Homo sapiens: one gene and its partners. Changing the gene in region 2 together with the main gene of any one other region gives a genetic interaction. Each region holds a gene or a part of one and is shown on either strand. Other genes may lie near its edges. The genes, in order: CTNNBL1, RBM17, PPP2R2A, UBA2, TIMELESS, LEO1 and CENATAC.

Region 1 (3,500 bases), on a different chromosome or scaffold from region 2:
AGACTCAGAAGGAGCTATGCACAGCGGTAAGGAATGTGCCAACTGCTGATTGGCCCATATGCTCCTATGGGCTTTTAGGAGAGAAGAAAAATGCAGGGCACTCACCTTTAGAGAGCACCAATTTGACATCACAGGGTGCTAGGCAGGCTTCTAAGATAAGTGAGACACTCAGGAGACCCTGTCCCCAACAGGCATACGTCCCTCACAAGTGAGGTGACTGACCATAGCGCAAAGCAGAATGGAGCCAGTGCTGGGATGCAGAGGTACAAGGGGAATGAAGACGGCACAGTTAACTCACAGTTAATCCGGCTGGACATGAAAAGGAGCCCAAAGATCCAGGGAAGCTGTACGGAAGGCATGGCTTCTTTTTTATTTTTTATTATTGTAGTAATAATTTATCGTTTTGACTATTACTACCATCACTACCATCTATCCACAGGCCTTTTTTTCATCTTGCAAAACTGGAATTGCCCGTTCCTCCCTCCCCCCAGCCCCTGGCAGCCACTATTCTGCATTCTGTCTCTGTGGCTGCCTGCATGGGAAGGGTTTCCGCAGGCAGCTACGCATGGGCATTGTTGAGCAGTCATCACCTTGGCTGTGGCGTAGGAGCTGTGACCCGAGAATGCTTCGAAATACAAATATTTGTGCCAAGGGTTGCAGTGGAAGCCACTGGCCAGTCTTATCGATGTTTTAGTCTCCTGGTGAAAGTTGTTGGAGGACCACACAGATGCCCAGGAGCAGCCATGGCTACTGCACAGTGGCTGGTTTGCAGAGAAAATCTTAGAGGATTACTGACTCAAAACTCTCTCACTGCTGGGCGAAAAGAATGAGCCAGAAACTTAAATGCTTTTAGAATTTGGCCCATGGCCCTTTGATTTGCGAGTATTCTTTATGGTTTAAAATCTCCTCCTAGTAGCTCATAAACATGTATTTCCATATTGATTTGGGGCTCTTGGTAACCCAATTTGTGTGATTTTAAAGCTGCAGAGGCTGATAGGATTTATCTTTGGATGACATGTTGGCATGTGCGTGGCTTGCGCCTGGTCATGGATACGGTGTCCCACAGGGTATTTGGAGGCAGGAAAGGATCATGGAGAGAGGCCTGTATGTTAGCCCTGTAGCCAGCGGCCTTGACAAGGCTCAGAGGCATCTTAAGGACACCTCAAGAGCTTTTCAGCAAAGATGTCACATTTGCCTTAGGATTGCTGCCCCCGGGCCTCACACCCAGTTCACCCAAGAGGGCTCTCGGGAAGCGCTGCCCGGGGTAGTGTGGTGGTGGTATGCAGGGGTCGGGGGGAACCACTCTTGGAGAACCAACTGTGCTAAGACCATGGAGCCTGCAGTGAGTTGCCCAGGTTCACAAGCAAGCTCTGTCGCTTTCTAGTGTCTGACCTCAGGCAGCTCTTCCCCTCTCCAAGCCATAGCTCCTGCATCTGTAAGATGGGGAGAACCTGTCTCAGAAGGCTGCTGTGAGAATGAGGTGAAGTGCTGTATGTACAGTGCTCGCATGGTGGCTGGCACCTAGAAGAAAGTGCCTGTTACATGTTAGCTGTCTTTATTGTTATAATTAGTGTCCAAGCTCACCCAGGAACAGAGATGCTCAGACCAACATAAATTCTGGATCTCCATGTAACTCTGGGCAAGTTAGTAGGTAACATATTTAAGTCTTGGTTTCCTCCTCTGTAAAAAACACAAAGAAAAAAACACCTAAAATAAATATTGCCTCTCTCAGGAAGCCTCCAAAGTTAAAATGCAGTTGGGTGCCTGGGACCAAGTTACATACTCAGTAAATGGAAGTTCCTTCCTTCCTTGACCTAATCCTTTCGCCTGGAGTTAGCAGCAGCTTGGACTGAGATGCCACCAGGAAAAGCAGGGACCAGCACACAGGCTCGACTTCCCCGGGGCCTTGTGGGGGTGGGTGGTTGTCAGTGGGTGCTTTTCCAACTGTGTAAAACATCCATGGGACTCTGAGAACATGACCATTGGCATTGTAAGCAAGAGCAAGGGTCTTTCTCTGTAAGTGGGTTTCATTTGAATGGCATCCCTGATGAAATGAGAACCTACTGCCTAGCAAAATATTCTACTTCTGGAGAAGCGCAACTTTCAACCTTCCAAGTTCATTGTTGTTGTCAAGGAATCTCTGTTAGACCTGAAGGATTTTCCTTTCTCAGTTTCTATTTTGTGGTTATATGTACATCTTCAAGGGTTTTCAATGTGAAAATATTGGGCATTCCTCCTCTCTCCTCCCTCTTCCTCCTGCATTTTTAAAAAGGTGAACATGTAAGGCTTAAGGTTCATGGATCTGAACCAGGCTTGTGAATACTCATCCAGGTCTCCGCCCTGGAAGACGACTTTTCCCCATCCACCAGCCCCAGTGCCCCCTCCCTCTCCCTCTCAACATAAACAGAACAGCTTGTATTCCATGTCTGAATAGTAAACCTGCTGTCTAAAGTTTGCTTTAATATTTATGCGTTCAGCACTGCTGCCTGTTTCTGAGTTCCATCAAAGCCTTTATTATAAGAGCATTTGAAAATGTGGGGGAAGTAGAGAAAGGAGTTGACGTGTATGCCGTCTTTCTCACTCTCCACTGACTTAGCCTCTTCCCTCTCTCCCCTCATCCTTTTCTCCCTCTCCCCTCATCCTGCAGTCTCTTTTCCTCTTACATACACATGCACACACGCACACACGCACACACACATGCAGCAGAGAGAACTCTTTCCCAAGACCTCTGGGAGGACTCTGTTCAATATTTAAACTGCTGCAGCAGCTGTAATAACCAGAGGTAGCTGGCACCACCAAGATTTGCTCTAAATAGGACTCTGCCATAGAAACAAAGAATGAGCAAGGGCAAAGGGTGAGGTTGAGGTGCCTGAGGGTGCAGCTTCCCCGGGCAGTGGATGAGCACTAGGCCAGTGGATGAGTACTAGGCCGGGTCGTCGGACCTGGTTCTGGGCCTGGCTCCGTGGCCGGCTCACTGTGGGACCCTGGCCATCCACGTGCCCCCTCAGGGCTGCAATAAATTTCTGAGAACCCTTCCAACTCTGATATTTGGTAACTTGGCATAAGAGAGGGTGACCCCAGCCAGTCCACCCACATCTGTCCTGGCCACCGAGGCCACTGTACCATAAGACATTCCTGTTTTGGAATGCTCACAGAGCAGAGTTTTTTTTCCCAAAGACTAGGGGCCAGGCAGGGTAGCCTGTTGCTTAGGTAACAGGATGCTGCTGTGAGGACCGGCCCCCTCCCAGTGGTTTTTTAGGGGCCTTTTTTTTTTTTACTATCCACACATTTCAAGGTTTGAATTCCGGCTCCTCTACATCCTAGACTTGGGCGGGTTGCTTCAGTTCTCTGATAGCCTCTGTTTCCCCCTGGGTAAGTAGGGATGGTGTTCTTTACCTTGTGAGATTGATGCAAAGGTTACATGTGAGACAACCTAGAAAATGCAGGCACATAGCAGTGCACAGCACATGTTAGTTCCACTCCGCTCTGTATGGGACAGG
Region 2 (2,457 bases):
CCGTCCACCAAAATACCTCCCATTCAAGTCAACAACCGCTGAAAGGCAAACAAAAGACAGTTAATACAGGTATCCTATAAGATAAAGGTTTAACTTTAATTAAACAGTAACTTTACTTGTAAAGATTAAGGCTGTAAATTCAACTTTTTTATTCTTTAATATTTAGCTGTACCACTAACCTTTAATTGCTGATTCAACTCTCTCAAATTCTAAAAATATCCGTACTGCTTCATCATCAGGGGCACCAGGAATCTGGAAGAAAATGAGAGCGTGATGAGTAAAGGCATTTGAGATTGCATTGAATGAGTTTTCTCTTTTAAATGATTTCTCAGAGTGGATATTCTAATTATCATCATATACAGTCAAGTAGTTGTCAAATACCAAGGAAATAAGTATAATTTGTTCATCATCAAAAACGTACTGAATGCCTGTTTTTATGACAGGCATTGTTAGGTGCCAGGAACACAGGGCTAGGCAGTCTCTGACCTCATAAAGGCCCTGTGCCAGCTGATGACGTAAACAAATAATTATGTGGTCAACAAACAGCAACAGGATAAAGAAACAGAGGAAGCAGAGCTTTCAGATTAAAAAGGCTGGTGCCCTAGTGGCCTTTCACATCAGGTCTCATTTTGACTAGCTCTGTCTAGCTTTCCTAGCCCTCTGTAATTCCACCCACCTAAGCACTTCTGCTAATCCCCAACAGGCCCATCCATTCCATTTTGGTAGTCCTGATCTTCACTGTCTCCTACGAGCCATTATCCCAATCAGAATACCCTTCCCTGCAAATCCCACCTGTTCGTTTCAAAGCGCAGCCCATATCTGCTATTGCTCACAAGGCAGTCTATTTTTTCACTGATCTAATCCTTTTCTCAACTCCTGAACTTAGTCAATACTACCTAGTCTAGTAACTGAATATCTTTCAGTTATTTTATGTGTTTCTTCAACTGAACACACCACTGAGAGTACAGAGCATGCTTCCTGTAATCCAAGTGCTCTCCGCACAGTGCAGTGCATGTGAGAGGCACTAAATACTCACCAAATGACTGAAACCAAAGGCATGTCTAAGGAACTAAACTACTGAGCACGCTAGAATCAAGGTCTTCAGTCATCATACTGATCCTCAATCATGAAGCATTCCTGTTTCTTCATCAAATAAAACTTGAAATCATTGTCTTTATGTTTAAAACTGTAATAATTGAGCAAGAGAAGTACAAATAACCAACGCCTGTCACCTTCTGCAGTAAGAATGTTACTTATAGCATACCCTGTCCTGTTTGTAGAAAATGTTTTGTAATGTGCCAATTACAACTTGTGTTATAAACATCAAAAGAAAACACTCTTACTTCAAATATCACACATTTTCCAACTTTGCCATATTTTTCACATTCTTCCTTGGTTTCAACTTCCAAGTCTTCATCCACCTCTCCCGCACCAACCATGTTCTTTAAACACAAAAATAAACAAATTCAAGTACCAAGTATAACTTACAAACACCTAGCAGAGGTATATAAATATGACTTAGTGATGGTAAATGTTCTCAATCCCAAACGACATAATGAAAAATTTCATCCCCAAAGTACCCAAAAGTTAGTATTTCTTAAAACACTAAAACATATATTAAGCCTGTAAAGAGTTACAAAAGCATCTATGCAAGCACCAAAATGTATAAACTATCTGAAGCTCTAGCAATTTCAAATATTTAATTACTCACTGCAGTCTTAAACACTGTACTTAGCAAAGAGACTTACACATTAGTGAAAAATCTAAAATCAGCCTTACGTGGGATCTGCCCAAAGTATTATTTGCAAAAGTATCATTTTCAGTTTTAACTTTTAGGGGGAGCAGGGTAGGCTGGGGTGACACACACAAATCTAGGCAGGCAGAGAGCTTGCTTTCCTCAGCTTCTTACCCTTAGTAAGACCACTTTAGTAGGACACTTAAGTATTTCAGTCAGCGGATTTGAATCTGACTTCTTGGATGCATCTGTATCAAAACATACCATTAGATGTGTTACAGAACTGAGCAGCATATCATTAGATGTGTTACAGAACTGAGTCCTACTTACAATAATTAATTTAATTTCAATAGCGATCCCCACCATTTATGTCCTAGGCATCTACACAATTGGTCTCTGAGCGAAAACACAGCCTTATCTGCAATAAAAGCCTCTGCTTTGCTTTGGCATGTTTTTACAATAGCATCTGGATGTTTTGAGCCTCCACCATTACTTGCAATTTTTGCTCATCTCACTTCCCAAAGGGCTGACAGGGCATGTGAGTGATAATTCCTATAGGTGAGTTGACTTGGAGCAAACGTTCAAGGTCACGGGCCCAGGGGAATATGCAGTTACTAATCCAGCCACCGGCTGCCTTACTTCAGATAACCTCACAAGTCGGGACAACTGTTGGTTTCTGGCACTCACCTGTCAGGCTCGTGATGTATCCTAAGCTGTGCATG
Region 3 (3,500 bases), on a different chromosome or scaffold from region 2:
AGGCCAGTCCACGAAGAATATTTGCCAATGCTCATACATATCACATCAACTCAATTTCTATTAATAGTGATTATGAAACATATTTATCTGCAGATGATTTGCGGATTAATCTTTGGCATCTGGAAATTACAGACAGGAGTTTTAGTATCCATTTGGTTTTCTTTGGTGTTTGGTGAAGAAGGCATGTTGTGCCCATATTAGATTTATTTCATCTCTCCTAATGAATTTGGTTGCTTTTTATAGTCTGTGTACATATATGTATGGCACCTTATTTTTTTCTTTGTAGATGAGTAATGAAATACTGGAAAAAGTTATTTGCTAAACATAAAGGGCATAATGTATTGATTTAAAATTGGATTCATGGAATTTTAAGGAATTTGTCTATTGTATCTATGTAAATAGGATTATTTTTTATAATTTAGGTTTTTGTTTTAAAAATCACATTTGTGAGGTCTGTGTATGGTAGCTTATGCCTGTAATCCCAGCGGTTTGGGAGGCTGAGGTGGGAAGATCACTTGAGGCCAGGAGTTCAAGGTTTACAGTGAGCTTGATTGTGCCTCTGCACTCCAGCTTGGATGACAGAGCAACACCCTGTCTCTAAAAAAATTTTTTTTCTTCTAATCAAATGTATGAACTACTGTATTTGAATTTTTTATTGTAAAAATAGTCTCACCTGGCTGCGGTGACTCAGCCTGTAATCCCAGCACTTTGGGAGGTCAAGGTGGGTGGATCACCTAAGGTCAGTAGTTCAAAACCAGCCTGGCCAACATAGTGAAACCCCGTCTCTCCTAAAAATACAAAACATTAGCCGGGCATGGTGGCGCATGCCTGTAATCTAAGCTACATGGGAGGCTGAGTTAGGAGAATTGCTTGAACCTGGGAGATAGAGGTTGCAGTGAGCTGAGATTGTGCCATTGCACTCCAGCCTGGGCAACAAGAGTGAAACTCTGTCTCAAAAAATATATATATATAGATTTATATATATTATATTAATTGATATTAAGATTAGATTAAGATTAGATTAAGATTAATCTTAAGATTAGATTAAGATTAATTTTAAGATTAGAAAAAGATTAATAATTAGATTAGATTAGAAAAAGATTAGAAAAAGAAAGATTAAAGATTACGATTAGATTAAGATTAGAAAAAGAAATTCACGCAAGTCATGATGCATGATTGGGTAAATAAAAATATTCTATTGAGGCCGGGCACAGTGACTCATGCCTGTAATCCCAGCACTTTGGGAGGCTGAGGCGAGGCGGATGGATCATGAGGTCAGGAGGTCGAGACCAGCCTGGCCAACATAGTGAAACCCCGTCTCTACTAAAAATACAAAAAAAAAAAAAAATTAGTCAGTTGTAGTGGTGTGCGCCTGTAATCCCAGCTTTTCTGGAGACTGATGCAGTAGAATCGCTTGAACCTGGGAGTCGGAGGCTGCAGTGAGCCGAGATTGCGCCACTGCACTCCAGCCTGGGTGACAGAGTGAAACTCCGTCTAAATAAAAATTAAAAAAAAAAGTTTTAATCCCTTTGGAATTTATACTCATAAAAACAGTGGAGTGCAATTCAGAATTAATATTTTTGCTTAGGTCCATGAATGGGTTTTAGGTTTGAGAAATGTAGAATTATATTTGCCCTTTTTTCTAAGTGGAAATTCCTTAATAAAATGTTATCTAGACATTGTGGATATCAAGCCTGCCAATATGGAAGAGCTAACAGAGGTGATTACAGCAGCAGAATTTCATCCAAACAGCTGTAACACATTTGTATACAGCAGCAGTAAAGGAACTATTCGGCTATGTGACATGAGGGCATCTGCCCTCTGTGATAGACATTCTAAATGTAAGTTTATTGTATCTTTCCTTAAAATGATTACATATTCTGTTTGTCTGAAATAAGCCTCAGACATGATAAGTACAATTACAGAGGTTCAAAGTCTTAAACCCGTGTGTCCAGAGCCACTTGTACCCTTGGTAATCTGCCTACCTCCTCATGAGGCATTCCAGGTTATTCCTGGAAGCTCTCTTGGGGGGCATGTCTATTGATTGCCAAGGAATATATCTCTCATGGAATGCTGTTGTTCTTTGGTAACTTGCGGTTGGGCTCTGTAACCTTGTATTGAAGTAGAGCTGTTCCTTTCTTTCCCATCCTCCCTTCCTACTTTGAGCTTCCTAGGAAGATTTCTTCTGAGGTTTCCTTGGCTTAAAAAAAAAAAAAAAAAAACAACTTTGGTTTAAAAACTTCAGGATACAATATTCTTGTCTTGTTGAATATTAACTCATGAAAATTGATACATGCCTGTTACCAAAATAATTTTACCTGGCTACTAGAAAATAAGATCCTGGTATGAATTTGGGATGGGCGAGGATGGTGTGTTTCTCATGGTGATGATACAGGCAGTCAGTGAGGCATATTGCAGGAATAATACCAATAAACCTGGTGCACTGAAGTCAGAAGTCCCAGGTGAGTCTGGTTCTAAATTAGTCATATGACTGGAAGTATACTGCATACTTATGCATCTTCAACTTCAATATTCAATTAAACTAAGAAGCTTTCAGGAGAATTCTAGCCAGAGAGATGTTTTTCAGTTCTTTATTAGCCTGGCATTTTACCTCACTTGTAGGGAGTTTGTGAATGGTTGTTTAGGAAATGCTTTGTCCAAGCCAGAATATTGTACACCTTGCCCTTTTTGTGTTGTTTTGTTTTGTTTTTAGTGTTTGAAGAACCTGAAGATCCCAGTAACAGGTCATTTTTTTCCGAAATCATCTCCTCTATTTCGGATGTAAAATTCAGCCATAGTGGTCGATATATGATGACTAGAGACTATTTGTCAGTCAAAATTTGGGACTTAAATATGGAAAACAGGCCTGTGGAAACATACCAGGTATTTGAGTTTTTTCTTTCAATGAGCATATACCCTGTTTACTTTGAAGTGTTTATAGAGAAGGATTTTGTTACTAGGTTTTAATCCCTGTATGGTGTTTGTTCACCATTAGGCCTTTTCCCTCAGAGATCTATGAGTATGTTGCTCTTCCTTATGTTAAATGTATATATACTTACATAGGTTGTGTTGTCTCTTGAGTTTTGCAGTTAAAGTGTGATTTTGCTACCCATTTGGTTCAGTATTGACATTGTTTTTTTTTCTGCCACTATGTACATTTAAAGTGAGGATGGAAGAGCACCCTTCATTGAGGTCTGGGCAGGAAGAGGATTGGAGAAAGTGGCCAGTCCTTAGTAGAGGTGCACCTGCTCAGGTTGTGGGAGTAGTTGAACTAGAGATTAAATTTGGTGTGCCAAGTCAAATGGACTGGTGTTCTGCCTTTTGGCAGATAACTGTTGTCTTCAGCTAAAAGAAAGGGCTTGAAAGCCTTAGCAGATGGCTTTAGGAGTTGCCTATCCGTTGTTGGATGTCAGTTCTTGATTCTCTTATCAGCCAGCCACTACTGTTTATCCGTGTCCACTACATCAAACAGAAGAGAATGAAGTACACAGCCTGGAACA
Region 4 (3,500 bases), on a different chromosome or scaffold from region 2:
AGTAATTTTTATTTGGGCTTGTAAGTCATGTTCACTGAACCAGGAGTCGGCGTCCTGGCACAGCCTTAGCTATGACTGGTAGATTCAGTTAGCTTTTGTGTTAGTTTATCATAAAGTAAGCATTTTGGAGTCACTAATATTTTAAAATTTCCTTGACAACGTAAAACGTAGTTGGAATATAGATGAATGAAGTGTTTATATTACCTTATAATGTTGAGAAACTGCCATCATGGAGTAAATTTTTCTCATATCCTGACTTCATAGGGTGTGACCGAGTGTTATGAGTGTCATCCTAAGCCGACCCAGAGAACCTTTCCTGGCTGTACAATTCGTAACACACCTTCAGAACCTATACATTGCATCGTTTGGGCAAAGTACTTGTTCAAGTAAGAGTGTATATTTCTTGGCATGCTTTTCGGTACTGATGATGGAAAATGGAGTCATTTTTATTTAATTACCTTGAAGAGATTGAACTCAGGATGTTTAAATATGGTGAAGGGATGCTTTAGTAGCTTTCTTGCAGTATTTCTTAGGTTAAATGTAGCTGGCCGGGTGCGGTGGCTCACACCTGTAATCCCGGCACTTTGGGAAACTGAGGTGGTCGGATCACCTGAGCGCAGGAGTTTGAGACCAGCGTGGCCAGCATGGTGAAACACATCTCTACTAAAAATACAAAAATTAGTTGGCCGTGATGGCGAGTGCCTGTAATCCCAGCTACTCGGGAGGCTGAGGCAAGAGAATTGCTTGAACCCAGGAGGTGGAGGTTGGAGTGAGCCGAGATCGCGCCACTGCACTCCAGCTTGGCAACAGAGTGAGAATTTGTCTCAAAAAAAAAAAAAAAAAATGTGGCCATGACTGTTCAGGAAACTTAGTCTTATATTGGAGACAGCCATGTAACTAAGCGATAAAAATCTTTATATTTGGAAATGTGAACATTTACTTACAAATAACCCATTGGTTATAAAAGAAATCACAATGGAAGTTAAAAATACTCTGTACTGATAATGATGAAAATGCTATACCAGAATGTATTGAATGTGGTGGTTGGCAAAAAGTTACAGATTTACATACATGAAGAAAGGCTGAACATTAATTACTAAATCTTTACTAAGAATCCAATTTAAGTTAGAAAATGAACCACAGAATACACTTTAAGAAATGAGAATGGTGTGGGCATGGTGGCTCATGCCTCTAATCCCAGCACTGTGGGAGGGTGAGATGGGAGGATCCCTTGAGCCCAGGAGTTTGAGACCAGCCTGGGAAACATGGCAAAACCGTGTCTCTACAAAAAATAGAAAAATGAGCCAGGTGTACCTGTACTCCCAGCTACTTGGGAGGCCGAGGTAGGAGGATCAGTTGAGCCTGGGAGGTTGAGGCTGCAGTGAACCGAGATAGTGCCACTGCACTCCAGCCTGGGTGATAGTGAGATCCTGTCTTAAAATGAAGAAAGAAAGAAAAAAAGAATGAGAAGGAAGGATATTAATTGAAGTAAGAGCACATTTGATTACAAAATAGAAGAGGAGTAAGTGAGAACTAAACGGGGAATACAGATAGCAGAGATTAAATAGGCTATAAGAAAAAAAAGGGATGATAATAAGACCATGGTAGTACATAAAAAATTTAAATGATCTGGGTAAATACATTTTTAAAAACTTACTAAGTGCCCAGTGCGGTGGCTCAGGCCTGCAATCCCAGCACTTTGGGAGGCTGAGGTGGGTGGGTCACTTGAGGCCAGGAGTTTGAGAACAGCCTGGCCAACATGGCGAAACCCCGTCTCTACTATAAATACAAAAATTAACCAGGCGTGGTGGTGGGCATCTGTAGTCCCAGCTACTTGGGAGACTGAGCCATGAGAATCACTTGAACCCAGTGGGTGGAGATTGGGCCACTGCACTCCAGCCTGGGGGACAGCATGAGATGATGTTTCAAAAAAAAAAAAAAAATGAAAGGAAAATAGAATGCCTGAATTTAGCAGTATACCTTAGAGCAATGTAAGTAGTTTAAATTATTCTAAATAATGCACCGAACCTATGTTATTTTTACAGATTCATTTCACAAAACTTGCAAGGAGTATATTGTAATATTAGCTAAACTCTCCCTGAGAAATTTTTAAAAGGGAATACTACTTAGCTTGTGTTATTAGGCTAGCAATGTCTTTGATAGCAAAACCTGTCAAGGCCATTATGGCATAAGAAACAATTGCTAGTCAGTCTCACACCTAAATAATAGATGCAAAAATCCTATGTAAAATATTAGCATATCCTGGGAATGGGCGCAGTGTATCATGCCTGTAATCTCAGCACTTGGAAGCTGAAGCGGGTGGATCACCTGAGGTCAGGAGTTCAAGACCAACTTGGCCAATATGGCGAAATCCTGTCTCTATTAAAAATACAAAATTAGCCGGACATGGTGGTGGGCGCCTATAATCCCAGCTACTTGGGAGGCTGAGGCAGGAGAATTGCTTGAACCCGGGAGGTGGAGGCTGCAGTGAGCCGAGATCGCTCTGCTGCGCTCCAGCCTGGGCAACAGAGCAAGACTCCATCTCAAAAAAAAAAAAAAAAAAATTACCATATGGATCTAGAATCATATAAAATAAAAAGTGTGTCTTGACCACGTGTCTATTCAGGAATACAAGCATGGTTTAAACTAGAAAATCTGTAAATGTCATTCACTCATTAGGAAATTAAAGATAAACTATATAGTTTTCATAGATACAGAGAAAGCATTTGGTAAAATTTAGCAAATGGCCTTTCATGATGAAAGTTTCTACTAAAACAGAATAAAAACTTACTAGGCCGGGCGAGGTGGCTCACGCCTGTAATCCCAGCACTTTGGGAGGCTGAGGCGAGCGGATCACGAGGTCAGGAGATCGAGACCATCCTGGCTAACACGGTGAAACCCCATCTCTACTACAAATAAAAAAAATTAGCCGGATGTGGTGGTGGGTGCCTGTAGTCCCAGCTGCTCAGGAGGCTGAGGCAGGAGAATGGCGTGAACCCGGGAGGCGGAGGTTGCAGTGAGCTGAGATTGCACCACTGCACTCCAGCCTGGGCGACAGAGCGATACTCCGTCTCAAAAAAATAAAAAATAAATAAATAGATAAAATTAAAAATAAAAAAACTTCTTACTAAAATGAGAATGTTCTCAACCCGATAAAGGGTATTTTGTAGAAACCTTCAGCAAACATTGTCTTTAATTTTTGCACTCAGAAAAGTATACATAACAGTGTCAACTTGATAAATGTTCACAAAAACTACACTTGGAAGCTTTATTTATTTGGCAAACATTTTTTTTCTTTGGGAGGCTGAGGTGGGTGAATCACTTGAGGCCAGGAGTTTGAGAACTGCCTGGGCAACATGGCGAAACCCTGTCTCTACTAAAAATACAAAAATTAGTGGGGTGTGGTGGCACACGCCTGTAGTCCCACCTACTCGGGAGGCTGAGCCATGAGAGCCGCTTGAACCTGGGAGGCGGAGGTTGAAGTGAATGGAGATCATGCT
Region 5 (3,500 bases), on a different chromosome or scaffold from region 2:
GAATATATATGACCCAATATTGGTGAAGATCCACAAGGGTTGTGAACTCTATTTATTATAATACTTACTATCTAATATATACCCAGTGCCTAGCACAGTGCCTGCTACATTAGGAGGTTCCCAGTTATAGGTTTTTTTGGTTGTTCTTTTTTTTTTTTTTTTTTTAAATGAGAAGGGGTCTGCCTCTGTCACTCAGGCTGAAGTGCAGTGGCACAATCATGGTCCACTGTAGTCTCGATCTCTTGGGATCAAGCTATCCTCCTGCCTCAGCCTCTCAAGTAGCCAGGACCACAGGGGTGCATGCCACCATGATGCCCAACTACTTAAAATTTTTTGTAGAGACAGGGTCTTGCTGTGTTGCCCAGGCCAGTCTCAAACGATCCTCCCACCTCAGCCTCCCAAAGTGCTGGGATTACAGGCATGAGCCACTACACCTGGCTATAGTTGTCAATTGAATAAATAAATAAATAAATAAATCCTGGGGATGTAAAGGTGAATCAGGTATGATCCTTGCTATCAAATAACTCACAATCCAATGGGAAAAAGAACAAATGTACTGTAGTATCACAGGATTTTTTTTTTTTTCTTTTTGAGGCAGAGTCTCACTCTGTTGCCCAGGCTAGAGTGCCGTGGCAAAGCAATAAAGGCTCACCCTCCTGGGTTCAAGCAATTCTCCTGCCTCAGCCTCCCAAGTAGGTGGGACTACAGGTGCCTACCACCACACCGGGCTAATTTTTGTATTTTTAGTAGAGACAGGGTTTTGCCATGTTGGCCAGGCTGGTCTTGAACTCCTGACCTCAGGTGATCCGCCTGCCTCAGCCTCCCAAAGTGCTGGGGTTACAGGCGTGAGCCACCATACCCAGCAGATTCCACAGGATTAAGGCTGCATCAGGGGCATGAACAAATCACAGCTGCAAAAGTGATTATTTTTACTTCAGGGGTTGAAAGAATGACAAGGACTGCTTCTCTGACAAGGTGACAATTGAGCAGACTCTTGAAGACTGGGTAGAGGTCCATCAGTAAGACAGATGGAGTGTGTGTGTGTGTGTGTGTGTGTGTGTCACCCTGTGTGCACGGTTGCAGCCTTCCAATAGAGGGACTGGCATGATTAACCATTTGGAGGCATGAAAAAGCCTACCAGGGTGACTATGATGTAAAGTCGGTGTGTGAGTGGTGTGGCTGTGAGGCTGCAAAGGTTGGCCAAGGATGGGGATGCCATTTGGAGTTTGTGGATTCTGTCCTGCAAGCAGTAAGGAACCATCAATGGCTCTGGACAGAGGACTTGACCCTCCATATCCACAAGTTCTGAGTCTGTGGATTCAAACCACTGTAGATCGACAATATTAAAAAAAAATAACAATACAACATTAAACAATAATACACAGCCTGGGCAACATGGCATAACCCCATCTCTACAAAAAATACAAAAAATTAGCTGGGAGTGGTAATATAGGCCTGTAGTCCCAGCTACTCAGGAGGCTGAGGTGGGAGGATCACCTGAGTCTGGGAGGTTGAGGCGACAGTGAGCTGAGACTGAGCCACTGCACTCCAGCCTGGGTGATGGAGTGAGACTCTGTCTCAAAAAAAAAAAAAAAAAAAAAAAATATATATATATATATATATGTGTGTGTGTGTGTGTGTGTGTATATATATATATATAAATAAAATGTATATATATATATTTACAATACAGTATAACAATTATTTACCTAACATTTACATTGTATAGGTATTATATGTAATCTAGAAATGACGAAGTATACAGGTTGTACCTAGGTTATTTACAAATACTACAAAAAGGGACTTCAGCATCTATAGATTTTGGTATCTGTGGGCAGGGGGGTCCTGGAACCAATCCCCTCTCAGACACTAAGGGACAACTGTAATCAAGACTATATTTTAAAAAGATAAATCTGGAGGCAGTCTGGAAGATGGATCTAGGGGAAGGGGAGATTAGAGAGAGGAAAAGAAGACTAGCAGAATGGCTGCTGCAGGAATCTTGGTCAGAGATGACAAGACAATGAGAAGGACCAAGATGACGATAAGGATAAGGAGGACCACCATGACAGTGAGGAGGAGGAGGAGATGTATTTGGAAATAGGACTAACACGCCTTGGTTGACACTGTAACTGACATATTTACCTGCCCAGAGGCAGGGGGCCGAACCCCTAGCTTGCGCAACAGCTGCTGAAACTGTTCGTTTTCCATGGCTTCCTCATTTTCCTCTGTGAGTGGCACCAATGGAACGGCCTGGGAGCAGCCTAAGACAGGGTCAATAGTCATATGGTGAAGATATAAGGGAAGAACTGGTTCTCCATCCCATGACCAGGTAGGTCTCCAATAGCCTCCAGGGCTCTTCTCCTAAAAGTGTCACCTGTCCACTCACCATCCTCTTCCCGATCATCAGCTGCTCGGATCAGGCAGTTCTGGAGCCATAGGAGCGGGATAGAAAAGCCTAAGGAAATGAGGGAAACTTACATTTGACCCTACTCCCAAGCCCTCCACCTGAGACATCTCTCCCAGCCAAAGTCCTCACCTTCCTGATGCAGGCTTTGACCAAGGTTTTCATTTGAAAGGACTAAGCTACCCTGGACTTGTTCTGCTTCTGAGCCCCCTTCTTCTTCCTCTTCGCTGTCTTCCTCAGGCAGGTTTTCCTCTTCTTCCAGATCTTCCTGGCAAAAATCTTTCAGGGACTCCGCTCCATTTGGCTAAAATTCATTGGGGGTTGGGGGAATGAAAATGAAGGCAACACAAGGAACTTAGTGGAGTCTCCTCGTTCCTGACCACCGCACCCCCCCGCGCCTGCTCTCTCGGAAGGACCTGGTCAGAACAGCCTCAGGCAGGAAGAATCCAGGTGGACTGCTCCTAAGGACCACTTCAAGGGAAGTGAGCCCATGCCAGCAGAGCTAGGGTCAGATTGTTACCAAGATGGAGGATGCCAACTTTTTCTGCCGTTTCTTGTACAGCTCCCGCCGCTCAGCCACCAGCCCCAGAGCCAAGAGTTTATCCACTATTCGGGCCCGTGAGCGTTTGGCTGTGATATTCTTCATGATATGACCCAGGACATCTATAAAAAGCAAGCATGTGAATACCCAAGGGTAACAGGGAAAGAGATGAGTAAAATAAATCAGAGGTCTCTGGAAAGAGGGTACCTCAATTCATCCAAAAATGACACTTACAAATATAGTAAGTGAACAGAAGGGATGGGAGAATCTTTCCTTGGGAATAAAAGGCAGCCCCAAAATAAATGGATAGCTTGGCTTTCATCTCAAAGGTCCCCTGAGTTTCCAGCTTACTCACCATCTGAGTCCCGGAATTCCTCAAAAAGCCGCTGCAGCTCCAACTCCTGATCCCCCGTCCACAGTACAATATGGGTTCCTTTCCTGATTAGGAAGGTGTCAGTGGAAGAGGAAGCCCAGGAAGTGATCACGAGTCCCCATCCCAATAGCCTCCAGAGCATGTGCCTCTCTACCTTTGGAAGTCCTTGACACTGTCAGCCA
Region 6 (3,500 bases), on a different chromosome or scaffold from region 2:
TTAAGCATATTTTTTTCCCTGCTTTTAATTTATCCAACCTCTCTAGGTGATTAAAGAGGGTTTCAGTGTTGTTCATTCTCCTGCCACACATACATCTGTCACCTCTGTATGCTTATTCTGTGATTATGTGCCTCTTGAGGAAAAACAAGATGCATAGAGTCATTTAAACTATAATTTTCTAAAGTACTTGTGTTGTGAAACAGGTAGAAAATACTATAAGATGGAGGATACGCCGAGATGAAGAAGGAAATGAAATTAAAGAAAGCAATGCTCGGATAGTCAAGTGGTCAGATGGAAGGTGAGCACAAAACGCCTGAAGGGTATTGACATACCCAGAACGGGTCAGAGGGATCAAGTTTTGAAATACTTTTTAGTTTTAAATTTATTATTAGTTTTAGAAATGGGGTCTCACTCTGTTGCCCATGTTGGAGTGTAATGACATGATAACAGCTCAGTGGAGCCTCAGACTCCTAGTCCTAAGTGATCCTCCCATCTCCCAAGTAGCTGGGACTACTTGGTGTGCACCACCCTGCATGGATTATTAAAAAAAAAAAAGAGCCAGGCACGGTGGCTCACGCCTGTAATCCCAGCACTTTGGGAGGCCGAGGTGGGTGGATCACGAGGTCAGGAGTTCAAGACCAGCCTGGCCAAGATGGTGAAACCCCATCTTTACTAAAAATTAGCTGGGTGTGATGGCGGACGCCTGTAATCCCAGCTACTCAGGAGGCTGAGGCAGAGAATTCCTTGAACCCAGGAGGCGGAGGTTGCAGTAAGCCGAGATCGCGCCACTGCACTCCAGCCTGGGCAACAGAACTAGATGCCGTCTCAAAAAAAAAAAAAAGAAAAAATTTCATAGACACAGTTCTCCATATGTTGCTTAGGCTGGTCTTGAACTCCTGGGCTCAAGCGATCCTCCCATCTCCCAAGTGCTGGGATTACAGGCGTCAACCACCGTGCCCAGCCACAAATTGACATTTTAAAAAAATTGCCCTTCACTGGGAATGTAGTAGAGCCTGGTAAACATCCCAGCATGTGTTAGTTCTTTGTAGTCCATCAGTTTTTCTCATTATGACTTCTTATTTTCGTTCCTTCCAAATTCTGTGTAAAAAGAGAGAGCAGCAGTTGAATCACCTGTTTTGTTTTGTTTTTTTTTTTCCTTGAGATGGAGTCTTGTCCTGTCGCCCAGGCTGGAGTGCAGTGGCACGATCTTGGCTCACTGCAACCTCCACTTCCCGGGTTCAAGCAGTTATCCTGTCTCAGCCTCCCGAAGGCTGGGACTACAGGGGTGTGCCTCCATGCCTAGCTGATTTTTGTATTTTTACCAGAGATGGGGTTTCACCATGTTGACCAGCCTTGTCTCAAACTCCTGACCTCGTGATCCACCTGCCTTGGTGTCCCAAAGTGCTGGGATTACACATGTGGGCCACTGTGCCCAGCCTGAATCACCTTTAAGTGAAGTAAGATGGTAGAGTGAAAGCTTTATGACTTTAATAGATGAAATGTTTCTCTTTCCAGCATGTCCCTGCATTTAGGCAATGAAGTGTTTGATGTGTACAAAGCCCCACTGCAGGGCGACCACAATCATCTTTTTATAAGACAAGGTACTGGTCTACAGGGACAAGCAGTCTTTAAAACGAAACTCACCTTCAGGTAACTGTTATTATTATTATGTATTATTTCTTATGGTAAAAGCAGTGAAACATAGATGTTTCTGTAATGCCTGCCACCTGATTGATGTAACCCCACGGTATGATTCAGCAAGAACCAAGATCTTGTGCATAGTTCTGAAGGTTCAAAGGTTATTTTGTCAAATACACTAAAAGTTGCTGTTTCTTAGGGAACCAGGTCATGCTAACCAGACTTACAAGAGACTGTTAGGTAAACCAGAATGTCAATGTATTTAATTCCAGTGGTTATTATAACTGCCAAGAGGCCTAAAATACGTGTGTCTGCTAGCCAGTGTGTCCTTTGTTTTTAGTAAAATTGACCTGGGAGACTAATAACTAGAGGTTGTTGTTGTGCATGCAATCGAAGGAAAGCCAGCAAGTTGGTCAGTGTGAGACGGGCCATCTCAGTGCCGTAGGCCCCGGCATCTAATACCACTGCAGAGGTGTGTCCCCCAAGAGGACAGGAATACTCAGCTGGTGAGGGCACTTTCCTTCTCTAGACTGAGTATGTGCTGCACTGAGATGTTCATGCTTCTCTTTCTTGATTATAAGCAGACCATCCTCTTTGGGTAATGCTTATCTTTAGAGGGGGCACAATAATGTTGGTTATGATTTAGCTTTTTGAAATTATAAAGGTTAACATACAGGCTTTGGAATCAGTTAGACTCATATTTGAATTCCATTTCTACTTGTGTGACCTTGTGCCACTTTCTTAACCTCTTTTTGCCTCAGTTTCCTAAATCTATAAAATAGGATAATTATATTAATATTAATATATTAATATTAATTAAAAGTAATGGCAAAAACCGCAATTACTTTTGCACCAACCTGTAGTATCTAATTAATGTTGCTTGAGCGTATCCATTTATTGCTTCTAGAAGGTGATCATGCCATACAATCTTTTTTACTCCAACCTTCTGTTTTTCATTTGTGGAATAAGAATGTCTCAGTGAGCCACAGAATGAAGAAAACTCACAATCTTCCACCTTGGTATATTCAGTCGAGTGTCTCTGCCTATTTTTTCAGGTGACTAGGAAATGGTCACTGGGCTCTTACTTCTGTGACGTGGGTATCACTGGCTCACAAATGTATTTGGTAAACAGTGATATGCTCTTCGTTTATTTCCTGGCAGACCTCACTCTACGGACAGTGCCACACATAGAAAGATGACTCTGTCACTTGCAGATAGGTGTTCAAAGACACAGAAGATTAGAATCTTGCCAATGGCTGGTCGTGATCCTGAATGCCAACGCACAGAAATGATTAAGGTATGTTTGCTAAGCCTAAGCGTTATCCTGGGATTCTTTGGTATATTAGGCAAGTATTTCCCAAAATGCTTGTTCGTCATCTCTTATTGGCCTACCTTTTCCTCTTCCAACTGACATGAATAGGGAGCTGGATTCATTTCCTCAGCATTTGCCAAACAATTGGTGACGTGGCAATGATAGTAAAACAGAAACAGGGCTCAGGTTCTCTCTTCACCAGGCCCTGAGAGTTCAGCAACAAACCGGTGATTGAAATATCTGAATTTTCATGTATAAGTTCAAAGATCATTAAGTCATCTATGTGTGGTTTAGAATCCATGTCAGAAGTCAGTGGAGATACTAGAGAGTAGTGTAAAATAGAGAATAGACCAGGAGTTTGAATGAGAGAGTGCCTAAAGTAGACTCTGGTAAAGAATAAGACGAGCTTATGAGTTTTTAAGGTCAATTTGTAACATTCTACCTGGTATATTTTCAAATTTGACCCAGCTGTTAATTAGGCACAAGTTTATTTGGGGCATTGTACCTAATCGATAGAGCATGTGCTCATATTGGCTATTGGCCTTTCCTG
Region 7 (3,500 bases), on a different chromosome or scaffold from region 2:
TGGAATTACAAGCATGAGCCACTGTGCCCGGCCATGAACCAGTGCTTCTAAGAGAACTCTGACTGCATTCTCATCTGCTTGGCTTGAATTCCCTTACCTGTGTGCCAGGGGGCAGGCCTAGTCAGTGAATATGTGGACAGGACTGGGAGGGAGGGAGGGAAGAGTCTGTAAAAGATGGGCAGTACCTTCCATATGCTAATTTGTTTCCTTCCTGTGATACTGGGGTCTGGAGGGTGGAGGCATGGCCTAGGCAGGCTCTTAAGCATCCCAGACACATTTATTTTTCCTGAATCAAACTCAGCCTCAGGCAGTGCCAGACCCAGAAGAGGGCTCTTCAGCACCTAGAAGCTGGAAAGGGATGAACAGGTAAGACTATTAGGGAATCTCTTGTTGGGAATTTGACATCTTAGAACATTCTGCAACCTTTTGCCTGGGAAATGGAAACAGATCTAATCTTTACCACCCTCATGGCTCAAGGACCTCATCTGGCAGCCTGGCTCATGTTTTTCAGCCAAGTAGCTTCCAGCTTACAGCAGCCCTCAAATTTGGACCTGCCACCAGCTCCAGAGCTTGACTGGATGGAGACAGGACCATCTCTGACATTCATTGGCCATCAGGTACAAAGGATAAGCAAGCCAGAAGAGGGCCAATGGTCCCTCAGGTCTCAGGACCCCTTTCTCCTGATTTTCTACCTATTCAAGCCACTGCTGCCTCCACTGCAGGCTTTTCCTTCTTCCTTCACTGTTCCCTAGTAGTGTTCTCAGACCTCTTCTCACCCTCCAAAGCGATCCTATTCACATGTATTGACACTTAGGAGTGCCAACTCCTAAATCTTGCCCTCTGTAGAACTCATAGTTCCAACTCAACACAGGACATTAAATATCCCACAGGCATCTGAAACTAACCCCCACCACTCCTATATTTCCAATCACTAGATGCAGATCCTTTCCTTTTCCATCTCCCATATCCTGTCAACAAGCGGTCAATTTTAACCTGTCTGCCTCCATTCAGCCTTTGGGCAATTTCTACTCCCCCTTCAATCCTGCCTCACAAACAGAAAATCATTGTACCACTTATGATTTTACTCTACACTTCAGCTGTATTGTGTTGCTTCGGGCTTTTGCAGTTGCCATTGTCTAAAACCTGCTTTCCTTCCCTCATCACCTAGTTTACCTTCAACTGTTAGCTCAAATGTCACTTTTTCATAAAAGGCTTATCTGAACAGGTTATCTCTATTTCAAGTGGATGTAGCACCATGTAAAGTTGCAAATGTAATTTACGTAACTTGTGCTTAATGCTCTTCCCCAATTATATGTATGCTGTGAGGGCAAGGTTTTGCTCCCCTGGCATGTAATAGCCACTCTACTTACAGACATCTCCACTGTTATGACTGTGAGCTTCCTGAGGACAGGGTTGTCTTAGAGTGACTTACTGTGCTTTCAAAGTTTAACATCAGCTGGGGTGCAGAATTAGCATTGTGGCAGCAGTCACACCCACCTCTTTTAAAGTGTGCTTTGTCTATCGTTTCTAGGATTTTTTTTTTTAATCATGCCTAGACTTTAACTAGCACTTTTTTTCCCATTTCCAACTACAGGATATACCAGGAGTTGGTAACATCCACTCAGGTAAGGTCCAGGGCAGTGTTTTTAAAACCCTGGGAGATTTTTTTTTTTTTTTGAGATGGAGTCTTGTTCTGTCGCCAGGCTGGAGTGCAGTGGCGCAATCTCAGCTCGCTGCAACCTCTGCCTCTCAGGTTCAAGTGATTCTTCTGCCTCAGCCTCCCAAGTAGCTGGGGTTACAGGTGTGCACCACCACACCCAGCTAATTTTTTTTTTTTTTTTTTTGAGACGGAGTCTCGCTCTGTCGCCCAGGCTGGAGTGCAGTGGCGGGATCTCGGCTCACTGCAAGCTCCGCCTCCCGGGTTCACGCCATTCTCCTGCCTCAGCCTCCCAAGTAGCTGGGACTACAGGCGCCCGCCACTACGCCCAGCTAATTTTTTGTATTTTCAGTAGAGACGGGGTTTCACCGTTTTAGCCGGGATGGTCTCGATCTCCTGACCTCGTGATCCACCCGCCTCGGCCTCCCAAAGTGCTGGGATTACAGGCATGAGCCACCGTGCCCGGACTTTTTTTTTTTTTTTAAATAAAGTTGGCCAAGATAAAGCGTATGTATCGGTAAAAGCCTTATATCCAGAATATATGAAGAACTGTCAACTTGATAAGGAAACAACCCAATAAAAGCATATGAATAATGTTCAACATTAGTCATTAGAGAAATGCAAATTAAAACCACAGTGAAATACCACTACATATGTATTGGAATGGCAGAAATTAAAGACTGATCATGCCAAGTGTTTGGCAGTGTAGAAAAACCAAACCTTCATACACTGCTCTTAGAATGTAAACTGGTACAGTCACTTTGGAAAACAGTTTGGGATACACCTACCACATTATCCAACCGTTCCACCCCTAACTAGAGAAAAGAAAGCCTGTCTACATAGACTTGTACACAAATCTTCAGAACAGCTTCACTTGTAGCAGCTCCAAATTGGAAACAATTCAGATGTCTATCAACAGGCAAATGGATTAACAATGGAATAGTATTCCAGGATGAAGACAGAATTATTGATACGTACGACACAGATGAATCTCAGAAGTCCAGACCTGGCCGGCGTGGTGGCTCATGCCTGTAATCCCGACACTTTGGGAGGCCAAGGCAGGCGGATCACGAGGTCAGGAGTTCAAGACCAGTTTGGCCAACATGGTGAAACCCCATCTCTACTAAAAATTCAAAAATTAGCTGGGCATCGCAGCGCACGCCTGTAATCCCAGCTACTTGGGAGGCTGAGGCAGAATTGTTTGAACCGAGACCTGGGAGGCGGAGGTTGCAGTGAGCTGAGATTGTGTCCAGCCTGGGCTAGAGCGAGACTCCTCTCAAAAAAACAAAAGGCCAGACCCCACCTCAATGTCCACACACAGAAAATCCTAAAAAATACAAACCAATAAAGCAACTGAAAGATCACCGATTGCCTGGACATGAAAATATTTTAATGGGGGCAGTGATACTTACAGGGGGATGTTTGGGGTCTAGATTGTAATGGCTTCGCTCAAAAGTCACCAAATTTAAGTGTGTATCGTTTATGTCAGTTGTGCCTCAAAGCCATTTTAAAATGACTGTCACATATGGGGTATGTCGCTTTAAATTAGCCTAGGGCCTTCTAAAGCTCCAGAATTCCTGGGCTTTGCTTTTAGACATTTCTAGCTCTTAATGAGGAGAGGTAAGCTAACAGCTAGGACATGTTTCACAATAGCCTGAAGACTTAAAAAAAAAAAAAAAAGCCTTAATTTTTTTTTCAGGTGCCACACCTCCCTGGATGATCCAAGATGAAGAATACATTGCTGGGAACCAAGAAATAGGACCATCCTATGAAGAATTTCTTAAAGAAAGTAAGTAAACTAATTCAAGAGAGGATCGTCTAAATCTTCACACTCAAAAATGGT

The links.
Region 1: changes in RBM17 (region 2) and CTNNBL1 together harm fitness more than expected from each alone (negative genetic interaction), as found in Homo sapiens cells (one large-scale study listed by BioGRID).
Region 3: changes in RBM17 (region 2) and PPP2R2A together harm fitness less than expected from each alone (positive genetic interaction), as found in Homo sapiens cells (one large-scale study listed by BioGRID).
Region 4: changes in RBM17 (region 2) and UBA2 together harm fitness less than expected from each alone (positive genetic interaction), as found in Homo sapiens cells (one large-scale study listed by BioGRID).
Region 5: changes in RBM17 (region 2) and TIMELESS together harm fitness more than expected from each alone (negative genetic interaction), as found in Homo sapiens cells (one large-scale study listed by BioGRID).
Region 6: changes in RBM17 (region 2) and LEO1 together harm fitness more than expected from each alone (negative genetic interaction), as found in Homo sapiens cells (one large-scale study listed by BioGRID).
Region 7: changes in RBM17 (region 2) and CENATAC together harm fitness more than expected from each alone (negative genetic interaction), as found in Homo sapiens cells (one large-scale study listed by BioGRID).

What each region holds. Positions count from the first base shown.
Region 1 is NC_000020.11:37,865,030-37,868,529, forward strand, and holds part of CTNNBL1 (beta-catenin-like protein 1), read left to right. Parts: intron 1-3,500. UniProt on the Homo sapiens protein: Component of the PRP19-CDC5L complex that forms an integral part of the spliceosome and is required for activating pre-mRNA splicing.
Region 2 is NC_000010.11:6,113,034-6,115,490, reverse strand, and holds part of RBM17 (splicing factor 45), read right to left. Parts: intron 1,984-2,457; coding exon 1,910-1,983; intron 1,443-1,909; coding exon 1,344-1,442; intron 253-1,343; coding exon 180-252; intron 39-179; coding exon 1-38. UniProt on the Homo sapiens protein: Splice factor that binds to the single-stranded 3'AG at the exon/intron border and promotes its utilization in the second catalytic step. Involved in the regulation of alternative splicing and the utilization of cryptic splice sites.
Region 3 is NC_000008.11:26,361,008-26,364,507, forward strand, and holds part of PPP2R2A (serine/threonine-protein phosphatase 2A 55 kDa regulatory subunit B alpha isoform), read left to right. Parts: coding exon 1-144; intron 145-1,676; coding exon 1,677-1,841; intron 1,842-2,713; coding exon 2,714-2,883; intron 2,884-3,500. UniProt on the Homo sapiens protein: Substrate-recognition subunit of protein phosphatase 2A (PP2A) that plays a key role in cell cycle by controlling mitosis entry and exit. Involved in chromosome clustering during late mitosis by mediating dephosphorylation of MKI67.
Region 4 is NC_000019.10:34,438,381-34,441,880, forward strand, and holds part of UBA2 (SUMO-activating enzyme subunit 2), read left to right. Parts: intron 1-264; coding exon 265-386; intron 387-3,500. UniProt on the Homo sapiens protein: The heterodimer acts as an E1 ligase for SUMO1, SUMO2, SUMO3, and probably SUMO4. It mediates ATP-dependent activation of SUMO proteins followed by formation of a thioester bond between a SUMO protein and a conserved active site cysteine residue on UBA2/SAE2.
Region 5 is NC_000012.12:56,418,427-56,421,926, forward strand, and holds part of TIMELESS (protein timeless homolog), read right to left. Parts: coding exon 3,473-3,500; intron 3,384-3,472; coding exon 3,301-3,383; intron 3,068-3,300; coding exon 2,925-3,067; intron 2,709-2,924; coding exon 2,537-2,708; intron 2,456-2,536; coding exon 2,387-2,455; intron 2,262-2,386; coding exon 2,143-2,261; intron 1-2,142. UniProt on the Homo sapiens protein: Plays an important role in the control of DNA replication, maintenance of replication fork stability, maintenance of genome stability throughout normal DNA replication, DNA repair and in the regulation of the circadian clock.
Region 6 is NC_000015.10:51,951,279-51,954,778, reverse strand, and holds part of LEO1 (RNA polymerase-associated protein LEO1), read left to right. Parts: intron 1-203; coding exon 204-298; intron 299-1,515; coding exon 1,516-1,650; intron 1,651-2,799; coding exon 2,800-2,935; intron 2,936-3,500. UniProt on the Homo sapiens protein: Component of the PAF1 complex (PAF1C) which has multiple functions during transcription by RNA polymerase II and is implicated in regulation of development and maintenance of embryonic stem cell pluripotency.
Region 7 is NC_000011.10:119,011,638-119,015,137, forward strand, and holds part of CENATAC (centrosomal AT-AC splicing factor), read left to right. Parts: intron 1-301; coding exon 302-366; intron 367-511; coding exon 512-617; intron 618-1,594; coding exon 1,595-1,625; intron 1,626-3,356; coding exon 3,357-3,446; intron 3,447-3,500. UniProt on the Homo sapiens protein: Component of the minor spliceosome that promotes splicing of a specific, rare minor intron subtype. Negative regulator of centrosome duplication.